Linked DNA regions of Homo sapiens: region 2 is linked to region 1. Evidence: fine-mapped expression QTL. A gene starts in region 1. The other region holds a variant in brackets. All regions are shown on one strand. Distances are from middle to middle. Region 1 holds the start of IL17RB (interleukin 17 receptor B). Region 2 has its middle 57 kb from the start of SELENOK.

What was found.
Region 2: its variant is fine-mapped to the expression of IL17RB in skin (TwinsUK, PIP 0.95).

Annotation. Positions count from the first base shown.
Region 1 is chr3:53,842,907-53,851,241 of GRCh38, reverse strand. IL17RB (interleukin 17 receptor B) reads right to left here and starts at 4,674. Exons shown (of 11, transcript NM_018725.4): 1 at 4,594-4,674; 2 at 2,554-2,578; 3 at 1,447-1,587. The coding sequence starts at 4,653. CHDH (choline dehydrogenase) reads left to right here and starts at 4,823. Exons shown (of 9, transcript NM_018397.5): 1 at 4,823-5,159. RefSeq lists enhancers at 4,626-4,920, 4,867-5,707, 5,708-6,548 and a silencer at 4,626-5,275.
Region 2 is chr3:53,944,950-53,953,284 of GRCh38, reverse strand. No RefSeq gene overlaps it. Among named protein-coding and RNA genes, the nearest start is that of SELENOK, 57 kb to the right of the region's middle. The variant TG/G (reference allele first, on the strand shown) is at 4,070.

The DNA of each region.
Region 1 (8,335 bases):
CACTCATGGATTCTTGACCAGGTAGACTTTTTTCCGATCTGAATTTAGCAGATGGAAACCAAAAGGATGGGCATTAGGATCCCAGGAGTAGCTCACTGAAAGAACTCATATGGTGCCTTGCAGCACAATCTTGGGGAAATGCCAAAAGCTTCGTGACGTCATCTGGGAAGTGGAAAAGTAATCTATCTAAGCCAGTGCTTTCCCTAAACTGAAGTGGGGTGGGGAAAATCATCTCTCGCCTTACCTTATCTTCTTCCATGAAGTACATACACAGAAAAGTACACACATAAGTGTACCACTTGATGCATCGGGACACTCATGCAACCAGTATGCAGGTTAAGAAACTCCCTCAGGTGTGCTCCTCATACTTCCTTACAGTTATTCCTACCCCAGCAGGAACCACTACCCTGACTTTTATTTTATTTTATTTTATTTTATTTTGAGACAGTCTCTCTGTCACCCAGGCAGGAGTGCAATGGCACAGTCTCAACTCACTGCAACCTCCACCTCCTGGGTTCAAGTTATTCTCCTGCCTCAGCCTCCCAAGTAGCTGGGATTACAGGCATGTGCCACCATGCCTGGCTAATTTTTTGTATTTTTAGGAGAGATGGAGTTTCACCATGTTGGCCAGGCTGGTCTTGAACTCCTGACCTCAAGTAATCTACCCGCCTTGGCCTCCCAAAGTGCTGGGATTACAGGCATGCGCCACCACGCCTGGTCTTTTGCTTTTTTTTTTTTTTTTGAGACGGAGTTTCACTCTGTTGCCCAGGCTGCTGGAGTGCAGTGGTGCGATCACAGCTCACTGCAAGCTCCGCCTCCTGGGTTCAAGCGATTCTCGTGCCTCAGCCTCCCGAGTAGCTGGGATTACAGGTGTGCAACACCACATCTGGCTAATTTTTGTATTCTTAGTAGAGATGGGGTTTTGCCATGTTGGCCAGGCTGGTCTCGAACTCCTGGCCTCAAGTGATCCACCCACCTCGGCCTCCCAAAGTGCTGGGATTACAGGCGTTAGCCACCGCTCCTGGCTACTATCCTGACTTCTAAACACTAGATTGGTTTTGTTTGCTTGGCACTTTCTGTAAATGGGATCATATGGCATGTATGCCTGCAGGCATGCACACAGATATAAATGTACAAACTCTTTTGAATCTGCCTTATGTTTGTGACATTCATCCATATTGTTGTACGTAGTTACAGATCATTCATTCTTGTTGCTGTGACGGAATTTATCTGGTGATTCCTTTCTACTGTTGGGCATTTGAGTGCTTTCTAATGTTGCCTGTTGTAAGTAGTGCTACTGCGATCACCCTAGTATGTGGCTTTTGGTGCGTGTATGCATGTATTTCTGTTGGTTATGCGTAGAAGGGGAATTAATGGTTCATATAGTCTGCACATTTCTGATTTAGTAGACACTTTGGGCCTTATCTCTGATGGATGCAAACTTACCATCTGCCCGGAGTACCCAGCTTACATTCATCAAAATTGAATAGTCCCCTGTTGCAACACTAGTTGTAACAGGTTCTACTCGGAGGTCCCTCAAGTCTCCGGGGATTAGATCATGTTGTAGCATCCACTCTGGAGATGGCCCTGGGAAAAAGCAAGACTTCCATGACACTGTCTTTCCCAGCCCAGTCTGATGCCATGCCATCTCCTCTCAGTGACTCACACCAAACCTTCCCCCATTCACAATTCCTCACTTCTTTTTTTTTTAATTAAAAAAATGTTTTTTGTAGAGATGGGGTCTCACTCTGTTGCCTAAGATGATCTCAAACTCCTGGCCTCAAATGATCCTCCCACCTCAGCCTCCCAAAGTGCTTGGATTATAGGTATAAGCCACCACGCCTGACCCAATTCCTCAGTTCTTCCTGCTAAGGCCAAATGTTTCTTAGCGCTGGCTGATTTATAGCCCAGATAATTTTGATCTAACAGAAGTACTCTCAACCTCCTGGCTTTCACCTACAGAGCACGTGGGACCACTCCAGGTACCTGTGTATGTACACATGTATATATTTAGTGTATTTGACATGTTTATTAGAGTCAGGCCTGCCTTCCTCAGGCTTTGGCCCTGGATTCCAGCCAGCTGGCCCACACAGCCCCCACTTTCCCACCTCCTAACCTTTGCTGGTGCCATCTCTCCTCCAGCTCACTCTTCCTACCCACATTTTTTGGGCAGAAGCCTACCCATTCTTCAAATGCCACCATCTCAAACACCCGCTCTCCTATGAAACATTTGCTTCTCGGTCCCAACTCTAAGTGACCTTCCTTCCACGGCCTTGATCTCCCTCTGCAGAGTGGCAGGCATCACTTTCCACCTTGTATGGCAAGTCCCATCTTGACTGGCCAAGAGGCTAGCCTGTCTGAAACACGGCCTCATTCCCACAGAGCCCCAGAGTTCTGCTTCGAGCAGACAGAGACTTCATCTGCATCAGCCAATAAAGCAATGGGTCACCCTGTGTCTGGTCTTCGATGACCTATTGCCTATATTAGGCTTCCTAAAAGTCCAACTGTGCTTTCAATGTAAAGCCCCAAATACCCATTCTCTAATGCACCTACCAGTTTCAGAGCCACATTGAACGGTCTGTGGGAGAGAAAAAACCAAGCGTCACGTTGAAGCCGGCAAACCACAAGCTTTCCTTTGCCAAATTAGGCAGAACACCATTTTCCCCTTAAATGCATATACAAGTGACAAACTTTCAAAGAAAAGATGAACTGGTTCTGCTTCACAGCTTAGGGGGGAACTAAGCTGTCCCACTGTAGGCTATGACGGACCATGGATTAGCCATCAGTATACCTGATCCTCAAGCCAGTGCATAACCTCACTTGAAGACCACAGGTGGGTCTCCATCTGTCTCTGGATGTCATCCTTCCCTGCTGCAAGCAGGGGATGACTTGGGACCGATGTGAGGCCCCTTCACACTCTAATGTTTAACTCTAGGTTTTTAGGACGGCCTAGAGTATTTACTGGGCTACCCCAGGTTAAGGAGTAGCTATGCTAAGGAGATAAACAAAAGAAAGCTCTGAATGCAGTCCATGGTACTTTCCTCAGGTTCTTTAAAATGTTCCCCTTCTAACACAAAAGGACTCACTGAGCAATTCACGAAACCATAAGCAATTATTAGTGTTCAAGAAAGGCTGGTACTAAATCGTTTGAAGTTAGCTGCTCGTGTTTTTTCATAAGAAAAAATAATTTGTGCTTTGGTTCTGGAATAAAATACTGAACCTAAAATATTGGGGCTTTAGGCAGCAGCAAGCTCAAATGACAAGACTCAATGTGATACGTCCAGCAGCTCTGGAATATGCTGCTGAGCATCCACATTTCCAAACACCTTCTAAGATCTCCTTTTGATGGTTTGAATGATTTGAGTTTGGGCAAAATTGTCAATCATTTATTTGTCTTTTAAAAAATGAACTCTAAGGGATATCATCAGATTTTTTTTTCCTTTTTCTGAGACAGAGTCTCACTTTGTCACCCAGGCTGGAGTACAGTGGCGCAGATCTCGGCTCACTGCAACCTCTGGCTCCCGGGTTCAAGTGATTCTCCTGCCTCAGCCTCCGGAGTAGCTGGGATTACAGGCGCCTGCCACCATGCCCGGCTACTTTTTGTATTTTTAGTAGAGACGGGGTTTCACCATGTTAGCCAGGCTGTTCCCAAACTCCTGACCTCAGGCAATCCGGCCGCCTCAGCCTCCCAAAGTGCTGGGATTACAGGCGTGAGCCACCGAGCCCGGCCAGACTTGACTTTTTTTTTTTTTTTTTAACAAATGAGCCATCATACCAGGAGCTGAGTTCTTATCAAACGGCCGGTGAGAGGCCAAGCAACAACCCTAAATGCTACCAAGCTCAAATTGTTGGCCTTGCAGCAACTACAGCAAAAGGGATGAATTCTTCCCTTTAGTGCAAAGAGCCAAGAGGGCTTCTGAACTGACACAGAGGGGAAGGATAGGAGCTGAAGACATCAGGAAACAGTGAATGGGGTTTGTCCACCAGCAGGTGACTACGGAGCTTGATGCTATATGCTATTCTAAGAGGGCAGCGGTATCATTTCAAAGGTTATTTGGGGGATGAGCTATTTTCTCTTCAGTGACCCAGAAGATTCCCTCGATCATTCAGGGTACTGGGGAAGAAAGGCAACTGCCTTCACGAGTGAACATGGCAATCAATATGGCCAAAAAGGGAGGGGGTACTAATGGAGAAACAGTTCTTGTGCCCCAACAGGTGAGCAGACCCCAAGTAACAATAACTACGTGCCAGGCCCTTCGCCGCTAATTGCAGGCCATGTCGTTATACCTTAAGAGACCCTGGTGGGTTCGGTACTGCCCTTCGTTTTACCGTTCGGGACTTGGAACTTGGTGAGCATAAATGACAGAACCAACAGTACAGGGTGGCATCTGAGACCGGGTCTGTCTGATTCCCACGCCCCTGACTCAAGCAACCTGACGCCGATGTCCGGGGCTGCCCTGAGGGTGCAGGCATGCCCCTTGAGCCGGCAGTCCGCGCACGCCTTCGGGGCAGCCTGGACTGGCGGATCAGACGACGTCAGGATCTGGGCTCGAGGGCCGGGAGATGAGGGAAGAGGTGCTGGCGGGGGCTTACCGGCTCTCGGGGTACGGCGCTCCTGCACAGCGCGGCCAGGCTTAGCAGCACGAGCGACATCGCCGGGCCACTGCGCGGGATCCAGGCCACCCGCACGCTGCGCTTTTATCCCGGCGCCGCCGGGCCGCCCCTTCTCGGCTCCGCCTCTCGCAGCGCCGACCCATTCCCGCCACCCGAACAGAGGGCGGGCCCGCTGGCCCCCTCCCAGGCTGGGGCAGGTCGCAGCGCCCTCGCCTGCTGGGGCTCGGAGGGATGGGCCGTGTCCGAGCGCTGGCGGAGCACGGGCCGCCGCGGCGCGCGCCTACCCCCGCGCACACGTGCATGCAGTGAGCCAGGTGCATCAGCTGCACCCGCCCTCGGGCTTCGCGCGCCTCCGCTGGAGCCCAGCTAGCCTCGCGGCTCCGGGGCCGACCGGGTCGGAACTGCTGCGTCCCCATTCCGGACGCAGAGAGCGCGCGGGGCGCCGGCGCCGCCGGTTAAAGTGCCGCGGGGCAGGGGCCGGGCCGCGGCCACCCGCTCCTCCCGCTCCGGTCCCGACTGTCGGGCTCTCGGCCGAGTCGCCCCGGGTGAGTAGCCGCGGAGGCGCCCCGACCACCCCGCAGCAGCGCCGCCCGGCCGCTAGCCCGGAGAGGCCTGGGGGCCGGAGGTTTGGGGCCGGGCTGGACGCCGAGACCCGGGCCCGCTTTACACAATCGCCCCGCCGCGCGAAGCGAAACGGGTGGAACGCAGACTGCCGAAGCTCACTGACTCCTTTGAGGGAGCGAATTCTTTCAGCTACGCGGGGTTAGAGCGGTAGGAGTGCCCGCTGCCCGACCCCAGGCTTTCTGGTAAATGTCTGTTTCCACCAAGTGAGTTCGGACAGCAACACCTGGGGCTCCCAAAGCGGAAGCCGTCAGCACTGGCGATTTGGAGCTGCGGTTCTCAAGTTTCCCTGGCCCGGGATCTCTAGCGCCGCCTAAAATGAGATCCAGACGGCAGGTCCGGGTCAGGCCCGGGATCTGCATTTAACGAGCCTCCACCCACGCCCCCGTAATTCGTGGGTGGGTGGCCCAGGGACCATCCTTTGAGACACAGTGGGTTTGGGGGAAAGTTCACAAAAATCAGCTGGGCTAACAGTGGAGTCACAGAGGCTGGAACTGCTGCTTCAGCCCCCTCGGTTTGCAAACGACAGGGTTGTGGTGACCAACTCAGGGCCATTTAAACTTGTAGGCAGAATTAGCTCCATTCTACAGATGAGAAGACGGAGGCCTAGAGAGGGGTATGGAACTTAGGGGTGTGTTGTCAGCTGGTGAGAGGCTGTACTAAGTCAAGCAGCTGTTTTAGCTGAGGCCCTACTTGTGTGCCAGGCCTGGCCCACCTGCCAGCTTGATTAAGGCTTGCATGGACTGGGGATCAGCCAGGGGTTTGGGCTCTGGCATGCATACGTGTGGAGTTGCAGGTAGCATTTTCAGAGAATTGCTCTGTTTCCTGACCAAGGAACTCAGTTGAGGTTGTGGCCGCACCCCTGCCTGGGACTGGGCCACCCTGAGCCCCTCATTCCACCTCTCTGAGTTGCTTTGGGCCCTGTGGCCCTTGAGAACATTTTCAGCTCTAATAGTCATCTTCCTGTTCAGCAAATACCTGCTGGGTGCAAAGGTGAACCACACATGGGTGCTGGCTGATGGGTACTCCTGGAGTGAGGATGAGTGCAGTGAGAATTATTTTCAAGGACACAAGTACCCGCCTTGCTGCGGAAGCCCAGATGAAAACAGCCTCGTCTGCAAGCTCAAGATTGTGAACTTTGTCCCATGGTGCTGAGGAACAATGGTACAGGCTTAAATGGTCATCCATTTTTGGTTTTAGAAAGGCCACCTGGTTGGCTCTGCAGGGCAAAATAGAGGGCTAGTCCCTCTGAGACGAGCGAGCAGGCAGCCATTCACTAACATGCGTTCATTCCGTGAGTATCTGATTCTGTGCTGTGGGCCAGGCTCTGGGCTGTGCTGGCTTTTCAGTTGTGTGCCAGGGCAGGCCCTGCTGTGAGCTTGGTGTTGTTCGGCACACAGGCTTTGAGACAACCAGGGTGCGGAGGTTAGGCCTGGAGACAGGGTTCATGAGTCAGACTTTCTCAGGGGGCAGTGGAGAGGAGAGGAGGATAGAGCCCTGGGGAGGAGAGCTTGCCTGAGGAGGTGGGGAGGTCTAAGGGGCTGCAGCAGGAAAGCCCAGTAGTGAGGGAGGAGCTCATGGGGTCAGATGGGGCAGAGAGACCAAGGGCACTGAGGCTGGTTGGTGGCAGTCACAGGAAGCCTTGGCAAAAGGATAGGGGAGGGGGTTTTGTAAAAAGAGAAGGGCTGAGGTTCTTTCTCCCCCCAGGGGAAGAAGTGTCAGGTGAGGGTGGTCTGGAGGTGGCTGAGCTGTAAGAAGGAGGAGTACTCAGGCAGGGGCTGCCAGGCAGAGACCCAAGACCCAGGCCAAGTGGCTTTCCTGCTGTTCTGGGTTCAGAATGACACTGCCCTGGCCCCCTGGGGCTTAGGGATGGGGTGATACCTGGTTCAGTTTCGTAGTTGGGGCTGTGGAGTGGAGGAGAGGGTGTGAAGGGCCCTGTAGCCACAACTGGAGGTTGAGGTGGGCAAACAGGTGTGTCTGCCTGTCCCCTCGGGGGTTTTCCCCCCTAGCTCAGAAGGCCATGCCTCAAGTGGCCCTGCATGAGAGGTCCCAGGTGGCCTGCCGGAAGGCACACAATTTATTTGGCTGCCTAAGCCTGATGACTTTGTGGCTTTTTGAACTGGAGGCTCTGGCAAGTCACTGCTCTTCTCAGAGCAGTTTCCTTTTCTGTAAAATGGGGTGGTGATAGGGGCGATGAAGTGATTTGAGTCTATGAGAGAAGCGACCTTTGGACATTTTCTGACCTTCTCCCTTCAGTCATAAATTCTGCTAGGTCTGGGTTTCTGAAAGAGCTACCAGCCAGTGTGCCTTCCTGTCCGGGGGGGCTTTGTAGGGGGTGCTCATTAAATGCTTGAATGGATGAATAAATTAACACCTACCTTCATCCAAGGCCAGTGCCTGAGCCTGCCCACCCAGGGGAGCTGGTTTGAACTTCCTCCTCTTTCTTCACAAGCAGAGCAAAGGTCAGGGCCTCTGCCAGAGCCTGGAAGATCACTGGGTCAAGTACCTATGGCCCTGACCCAGACCCTAGGGTCTGCACAGACTCTGTGCAGCCACAGCGCGGTGAGATGCCTGGCTTCCAGACCACCTGGTTCTGCGGCTCATTCACCATCTGTTGGCCTTGAGTGAGGCTCTTAGTCTTTTGGAACCTGTTTCTCCATCTGTAACATGGGGCTGACATCAGTTCTGCCTCCCCAGCAGGGCTGTTAGGAAACGCAGAAGAAACAGCAAAACAGCAGATAGGAAAGCAAGTTGAAGGATTTAAGAGTGCTGTGTAAATTTAGGGGCAGGAGAGGCAGAACCAAAAAAAAAAAAAAAAGGTGGGGGGGGAAATTCCCTAGGACCCAAGAGTCACGGTAATCCCCAGATTCTGTCATTGTTATTCCGACCTTTGCTTCTTTGCCTGATCCATCCCTGGGAGAACAAGGCCATCAGGGTTGTTGACAAGTCCTGCGGGTCCAGCCTCCACCCACACAGGTGGAATTTTCCAGTTCGTTCTTTTGCAAATATTAATCAAGGCCCTGGCTGGTCAACAGTGGATTCATTGTCTCGTGAAGAGTGAGCCGTTTCTGGCACATACTGGCTGTCTCCCAGGGCCCCT
Region 2 (8,335 bases), 100 kb before region 1:
TTAAAGGATAAAACCTAATTTAAAAAAAGATGAAATTTCCTTTGAACTATATATGGGAATAAGAGATAAAGAAATTAGATGTGCATGGGTATTGGAGAAGAAGGGAGCCATTTATGTTCATTGAAAAAGTCTAGAAAAATATGTACCCAAATGCTAATATTTGTTATCTCTGGGGATTGGAATTACAGGGACTTATTTTTCTGTTTGTCTGAACTCCTTAATTTTTCTCCAGTGAACACAGATAATGTGTAAAAAGCAATCAAAGTTGAAAACTATAAATGTTTGTAAAAGTGTCAAGACATTTAAAAGTCTTCACAAAATATATCTAGGGCTTTGTCAGACTCTAAATACTTGACATTTGACTTGATAAATTTTGTTGATCCCAAATTTCCCACAATTTCCCTGCTTCAATACATGAAACAAGTTCACAGAGTTGATGCCTAGTACAACAAAACAGAAAGTCCTGAAATACTAATTAAAGATGGTCAAACAATTTGGTAATAGATATTAAACAATTCAATATTTACATAACATAGTTAATAAGAAATGGTATTTACTATCAGGGATTTGTTTCCAAAACATTCTAGTAGCTTAGAAAAATGAATAATTCCAAGGTGATTCAAACCAACAAGTGCTCCAAATGGAATCTCTTCACAAACAGTGCTGCATCAATTATATAAACAGTAGCTAACTTGGCTTACTAAGGAACAAACTTTTTCAGATGCCAAGGAATGTTCATAGTTTGCACCTTAAATTTGCTGCAACTTCAAGGCTATGCATTGCAGCATTACGTATAATAGAGACTGGAAGCAATCCAAATGATCATCACCAAGAATCTAGCTGAATAAACCATGGTGCTGTGCAATGGAGTACTATGTCACTCAAAAAAAGGAATGGGAAAGATCTCTACTGCCATGGCATAATGACTAGGATATATTGTTAAACGAAAAAAGCAAGAAGCATGGGGACAAGGTTGATAGTAAGGTACCTTTCTTTTGGTAAGAAACGGGGAGGGGAGAAACATATCTATGGCTCTGTCAAACTCCAAGTAACCTGGCATTTGACTTGATACACTACATGTTATTAATTAATTGATAAAAATACATGTTTGCCTTTGGGAGGCGAAGGCAGGAGGATTACTTGAGGCCGGGAGTTCAAGATCAGCCTGGGCAATAAAGCAAGACCTTGTCTTTATGAGAAATAAAAAATATAATTAGCCAGGCATGGTGGCATGAGCCTGTAGTCCCAGCTGCTTGGAAGGCTGATGCAGGAAAATCATTTGAGCCCAGGAGTTTGAGGCTGCAGTGAGCCATTACTGCACAATTGCACTACAGCCTGGGCAACAAATCAAGATGCTCTCTCTAAAAATAAATAAATTTATCCTGGTCAACTGGTTGAAAGGCCATATATGTGTGTATATGTTTGCTTTTATTTTCATATATATTTACATATATGTATATATATATACACACACACATATGTATATGTTTGCTTTTATTTTCAAAAAAGTAAAAAGCAAGGGATAATCCAAAAACTTAAAAAAAAAAGTTACCTGTGAGGGAAGAAGGGGACAAGTTAGAAGGAATTGGGAAAGAAGCTAGACTTCTTTATGTATTTTATTGTGTAGTTTTGACTTTGAAACTGTATAAATGTTTTATATACTTAAAATTTTTAAATAAAAAAGAAAAACATTTACTGCATCTTGATTGAAGTTTATTTTGGCTAATAATATCTTTCACTTCTACTAAGTTGGAATTTAATAAGTAGAAATGATAAATCGTTCTAGTTTCATTATCCCTGAAACTTAATTCTTTGTCTATTTGACCTGTTAAGCCAAATTTTATCAGTTTCCCACAAATATTTTTTTCTTTCCTACCAGTTTTTCTATGCCACTGATACAGAGTTTAGTGTCAAATAAGAGGTAAGTGTTTTTTAACATGCTAGTATCTTCCCATAAAAGAAACAAACTTCTTATTCCTTCAAACCTGTGTTCCAATGTTTCAGAATAATCATTCCGAAGTGATTTCAGAATAATCATTTCATTGAGTGACTACTACATGTCAGGCACTCTAATTTTAAACATTATGTATATGCTATCTCACTCACTCTGCCCAATGACCCTATGAGGCGAACACGCTCAGTATCTCTATTGTACAGGTGAAAAAGCTAAAGCAGAGAGAGATTAAGTCACCTGCCCAAAGTCACCTGCTTTTTCTTTATAACAACTTCACAATTTTTTTGCATATCATAAAATTCACCCAGTTCAAGTGTACAATTCATTATTTTTAGTAAGTTTACCAAGTGGTGCAACCATACCATACATCCGTTCCGGAACATTTTCATCCCTCCAATAAGATCCCTCATGCCCATTTACAGTTACTTCTTACTAATACTCTGAGCCCCATGCAACAACTAATCCACCTTGTCTGTATAAATTTGCCTTTTCTGGACATTTCATATATATGGGATCATGTATATATAGTCTCTTGTGTCTTGCTTCTCACACTTAGCATAATATTTTTGAGCTTCATCTGTGATGTGGTGTCAGTAGTTCATTGCTTTTCATTGCTGAATAGTATTCCATTGTATGGTTATACCCCATTTTGTCTATCGGTTCACCAGTTGATGAACATTTGGGTTGTTACAGGTTTGGCCTATATGGATAACACTGTTATGAATAGCTGTATGCAAGCCTTACATGTGGATTTATGTTTTCATTTTTCTTTCATCTCTCTCTACCTAGGAGTAGAATTGTAGTGTCCTATGGTAGTTTTATGTTTAATTTTTTGAGAAACTGCCGAAGTGTTTTCAAAGTGGCAGCATCATTTTACATTCCTACCAGCAGCGTATAAAAATTCCTGTCTCTCCACATCCTAACCAACATTTGTTATTGTCTTATTTATGATAGGCATTCTAGTGAGTGTGAAATGCTGTCTCACTGTGATTTTAATTTGCATTTCAAAATGACTAATAGCATTGAACATCTTTCCATGTACTTATTAGCCATACATACATACACCACACACACATACACACACACACACACACACACATTTTGCTGGTGAAAAGTCTATTTATATCTTCTGCCAATTTTTTAATTGGATTTTTGTCTTCTTATAATTGAATTGTAAGTGTTCTTTGTAAATGGTGGATATAAGTCCTTTATTGGATATATGTTTTGAAAATATTTTCTCCCAGTCTGTTTCCTGTCCTTTCATTTTCTTAATAGTGTTTTTTGAAGTTCAAAAGTTTTGAATTTTGATGAGGCCCAATTTAACAATTTTTTTCTTTTACTGATGTGCTTTTTTTATTGTTGTATCTAATACATTTTTTCTTAACTCATGGTCTAGAAAATTATATGTTTTCTTCTACGAGTTTTACTGTTTTAACTCTTACATTTAAATTATGATTCGTTTTGAGTTAATGTTTGTATATTGTATGAAGCAAGGATGTAAGTTTATCTCTTTACATATAGATATCTAATTATCCCAGCACCATTTGTTGAATAGACTATCCATTCCCCCAGAGAATTGCCTTGGCATCTTGCCAAAAACCAACTGACTACAGAAGCAAGGATTTATTCCTGGACTGTTAATTCTCTTCCTTTGATTTATGTATCTGTCCTTATGCCAGTACCACACTATCTTGATAACTGTAGTTTAACAGTGAATTTTGACATTGGGAGATGAAAATCCTCCAATTTTACTCTTCTTTTTCAAAATTGTTTTGGCTATTTTAGGTGTTTGCATTTTTCTATAAATTTTAGGATCTGCTTTTCAATTTCTGCCAAAAAAAAAATCCCGCCGGAATTTTGATAGGGATTGCGTTTATCTATAGATCAATTTGGGAGGAACTGGCATCTTAATAATACTGGGTCTTTCAAACACTAGACATGGAATGTCTCTCCATTTACTTAAATCCTCTCTAATTTCCCTCAGCAAAGCTTTGAAATTTTCAGTGTATAGCCTTACACTTCTTTTAAAAATTTTATTCCTAAGTATTTTTGATACTACCGTGAACGGAATTATATTCTTTTTTCTTTTTTTTCTTTTCTTTTTTTTTTTTTTTT[TG/G]GCAGGGGCTTGCTCTGTCACCCAGGCTGGAGTGCAGTGGTGCAATCACGGCTTACTGCAGCCTTGACCTCCTGAGCTCAAGTGATACCCTTACTTCAGTCTCCCAAGTAGGTGAGACCATACAGGTGCACCATGACACCTGGCTAATTTTTTTTCTACTTTTGGTAAAGACAAGGTCTCCTTCTGTTGTCCAGGCTGGTTTCAAACTCCTGGGCTCAAGTGATCCTCCCACCTTAGCCTCCTAATGTGCTGGAATTACAAGCATAAACCACCATGCCCAGCCTGAAATTATAACCTTAATTTCATTTTTGGACTGTTCATTGCTCATACAAATACAGCTGGTTTCTGTATAGTGATCTTGTATCCTGTGACCTTACTATATTTGTTTATTAGTTCTAACAGGGTGTGTGTGTGTGTATTCCTTATAGTATTCTACATATAGAATCATGAATTCTATATATAGGATCCTCTGTGAACAAAAACAATTTTACTTTTTCCTTTCTAATCTGGATGCCTTTTATTTCTTTTTCATTCCTGATTTCACTGTCTAGAACCACCAGTACAATTCTGAATAAAAGAGGTGGCAGCAAGGACAGCAAGGCAACCAAGTTGCCTTGGTCCTAATGTCAGGGGGAAAGCATTCAGTCTTTTACCATTAAGTATATTGTTCATCATGGGTTTTTTCATAGATGCTGTTTACCAGGTTATGGAAATGTCCTTCTAGTTTAATAACTTTTTTAAAATCATGAATGGGTGTTAGATACTGGTATATGGTTTTTCTCTATCTATTGAGACGATTATGTTGTATTTGGTGTATTACATTAGTTGATATTTGGATGTTAAACCAACCTTGCATTCCTAGGTTAAATCCTACTTGGTCAAGGTGTATAATTTTTGGAGTATATTACTGGATTCAGTTGGCTAATTTTTTTGAGAATTTTTACATCTATATTCATAAGGGATACAGGTCTATAGTTTTCCTTTCTTATGATGTCTTCTCCTGGTTTTGGCATCAGGGTAACACTGGCCTGATAGAATGCATGGGGAAGTATTTCACTCTGTATTTTCAGAAAAAAAAATTTGCAGTACTGGTATAATCTCTTATTTAAATGTTTGATAAAATTCACCAGTGAAATCACCAGACCCTGGGCTTTTCTTTGTGTGAAGATTGTTAAGTATTAATTTATTATCTTTGCTTTTGAAAGGTCTATCAGATTTTTAATTTCTTCTTGAGTAAATTTCAGTTGCTTGTGTCTTTCTAGAAATTTGCCCCTTTCATGTGAGTTATCCAATTTGTTGGCATAAAGTTGTTCATCAAAGTCACAATGCTTTTAAGGAGTGAATCTGTATTTGAACAAAAGGGGGTCTAATTCAAGCTCCCACCCTTTACTGTTATGCATACCACCTTCCATTTATTTTTTACTCAATATACTATTTCAGAAACTAGGCATAAAATGGCAGGCATAGAGAGGATAATTCAGTCCATTCTCAGAAGGAGTAGCAATGACAAAACCCATCAATCAGGGACACAATTTTCAAAATAAACTGGAACATGTACTTTACAACTATATCCTCCTGGCTTTAAAACACCGTAGATGTTTCCAGATGTGACTTCTTGACTGCTTGTATTCTGAGGTCAAGAAGCCCAAACATCATTAGAATCTTTGCAACAGGAGCAGACTGCAAACATAATATGTGCAATAGTGAGCATTCTCTGTATTGGTAGCTTTACAAGCAAAGTAAGTGTTGTTTTTTAGCAATTTTGTTCATTCTCATAAATCTAAATGGAAAATTATGTTTGTGAATAAACAGAAAAATATGAATTCCAGAATTTTATGGCTAAGACTTTAGAGATCACCTAACCTAATCTCTTCCAGGTTTTTTTTGGTGTGTTTGTTTGTTTTTGAAACAGGGTCTCCCTCTGTCACTCAGGCTGCAGTGCAGTGGCATGATCTTGGCTCACTGCAACCTCCGTCTTTGGGGCCCAAGTGATCCTCCCACCTCAACCTCCCAAGGAGCTGGGACCATAGGCATAGACCACCACACTCAGCTAATTTTTGTATTTTTTGTTGAGTCAGGGTTTCACCATGTTGCCTAGGCTGGTCTTGAAGTCCTGGGCTCAAGCAATCCACCAGCCTCAGCCTCCCAAAGTGCTGGGACTATAGGTGTGAGCCACCACACCAGGCCCATCCAATTTTCATAGGTAAAGAAAACACAAACCCTGGCTGGATGTGGTGGCTCATGCCTGCAATCCCAGCACTTTGGGAGGCTGAGGTGGGCGGATCAAGAGGTCAGGAGATCGAGACCATCCTGGCTAACACGGTGAAACCCCTTCTCTACTAAAAAAATTATGAAAAATTAGCTGAGCATGGTGGCAGGCACCTGTAGTCCCAGCTACTCAGGAGGCTGAGACAGGAGAACGGCATGACCCCGGGAGGCGGAGCTTGCAGTGAGCCAAGATGGCGCCACTGCACTCCAGCCTGGGAAACAGAGCGAGGCTCCATCTCAAAAAAGAAAGAAAAGAAAAGAGAGAAGAGAAGAAGAGAAGAGAAGAGAAAAAAAGAAAAGGAAAGAGAAAGAAAGGAAGGCAGGCAAGAAAGCAGAAACCCTAAGAGAGCAACTTTAATTGAATTCACAAGGGCAGTAAGAGAGCAACTTTAATTGAATTCACAGGGGCAGTTGGTGGCAACTGAGATGTAGTCAGGTTGGTTGGGGAGCAAACATATAAAGGAAAAAAGAAAAGATGAGGAAGATTGTCCAGGATAGCATGGTTATTTCTTGGTGCATCAGCATCTTTTAATTCCAGGCTGGTTTAAAAATCAACATAGAAATGTTTAAGAATCTCAAATTATTAGTGAAACACCAGGGGTTTGATCTAGGTCCTGCTGCTCACCACACAGAAAGCCAATCACTGAAACAACAAATATTGCCAGGGAAGAAGGCTTTAATCAGGAGCTGCAGCCAAGGGGATGGGAGATCAGTCTTAAATCTGTCTCCCTGACTGACTAAAATAGCAGGGAGAAAATGTAACCATGTGGGAAAACAGGAATTAGGGAGAGGTAAGGAAGAGGAATTGGTCAACAGGAAGCAGGTGGTGGGCTAGGCAATCATGACAGGTGAGGGGTCTGGCCTCTCATTGTCCAGATGTGGTAATCTGGTAAGTTTCAGTTCCTTGATGTTATCTGGGAGGCCTGATGGTTGGTTTTCTGAGAAAGGAACTCAGATAAGACAAATGTAACTTTTGCAAGTTTCAAAAGTGGGAGGGTCAATTTCTATGTTTATTCAAAAGAAACCACAAACATCAGTTCTATGGGACAATTGGGTGGTTTCAAAATATGTAGCATTAATATTTTCAGGTGAAGAACTCTATGCATGTTTGGTGATGTTTTATGTACTTATATAATGTTTAAGAGAATTGAGCCTAATGGAATAAGAGGTTATTCTTTTGATTCTAATTTTAAATATGTAATTGATGTAGACTTGTGATGTTAAGTTCAGATTTAATAGGTTTATTACAGAATTGAATACGTTAAAAGAACTAAAAGTTTACCATATTTCTAAGTCTAATATATTAGATTTATAAGTTATTTAAGTGTTCGGGAAGGTTTTGTTAAGTCAGACAATTATAGTACCTAAAAGGAAATTGAATATATTAAATTTATAAAAGCAGTTTAAAAGTAGTTTAACCAAGTTTTTAAATGGGACCAAACATTAATCAAAGCCTCCTTAGAAGTGACTTATAACTTGCTAGGCTTATAAATAAAATAATAAGATTTGTAATCTAAACTTAAAAGCTTAAAAATACAAAAGATTTTCTTTAAATTCTAACTAATAAATCAAAGACCAATTTAAAAATCAAAGGTACTTCTGAATAATCTCTCCTGTGCACAAAAACTATCATCAACGACCTTGAAAATCATATTCAACAACTCAGAGAGAATGTGTCTTTGGTAAGATGCTGTCATTAGACAGGCGGAGTGCCAGTGCCAAACACTAAGGGGCCCACAGGCCCCTCATGGTGCCCACACAGGAGTCTAAAACAGCCAACCTGTACAGATATTAGCCAGGCAACCAAAGATATGGAGTTGCTTAGCATTTTCCACAAAATAAAGCCATGCCACGGTGGCAGGATACTATTTTAAAATAGAGCACAATAAATAGAGGGGTCAATGACTAGCTTTTTAATTACAAAAGCTTCTCCTTGCATTAATTAGAAGATTTGCAAGAATGTACAGTAGGGGATAGCTTTCCTGTCCAACAGCTGT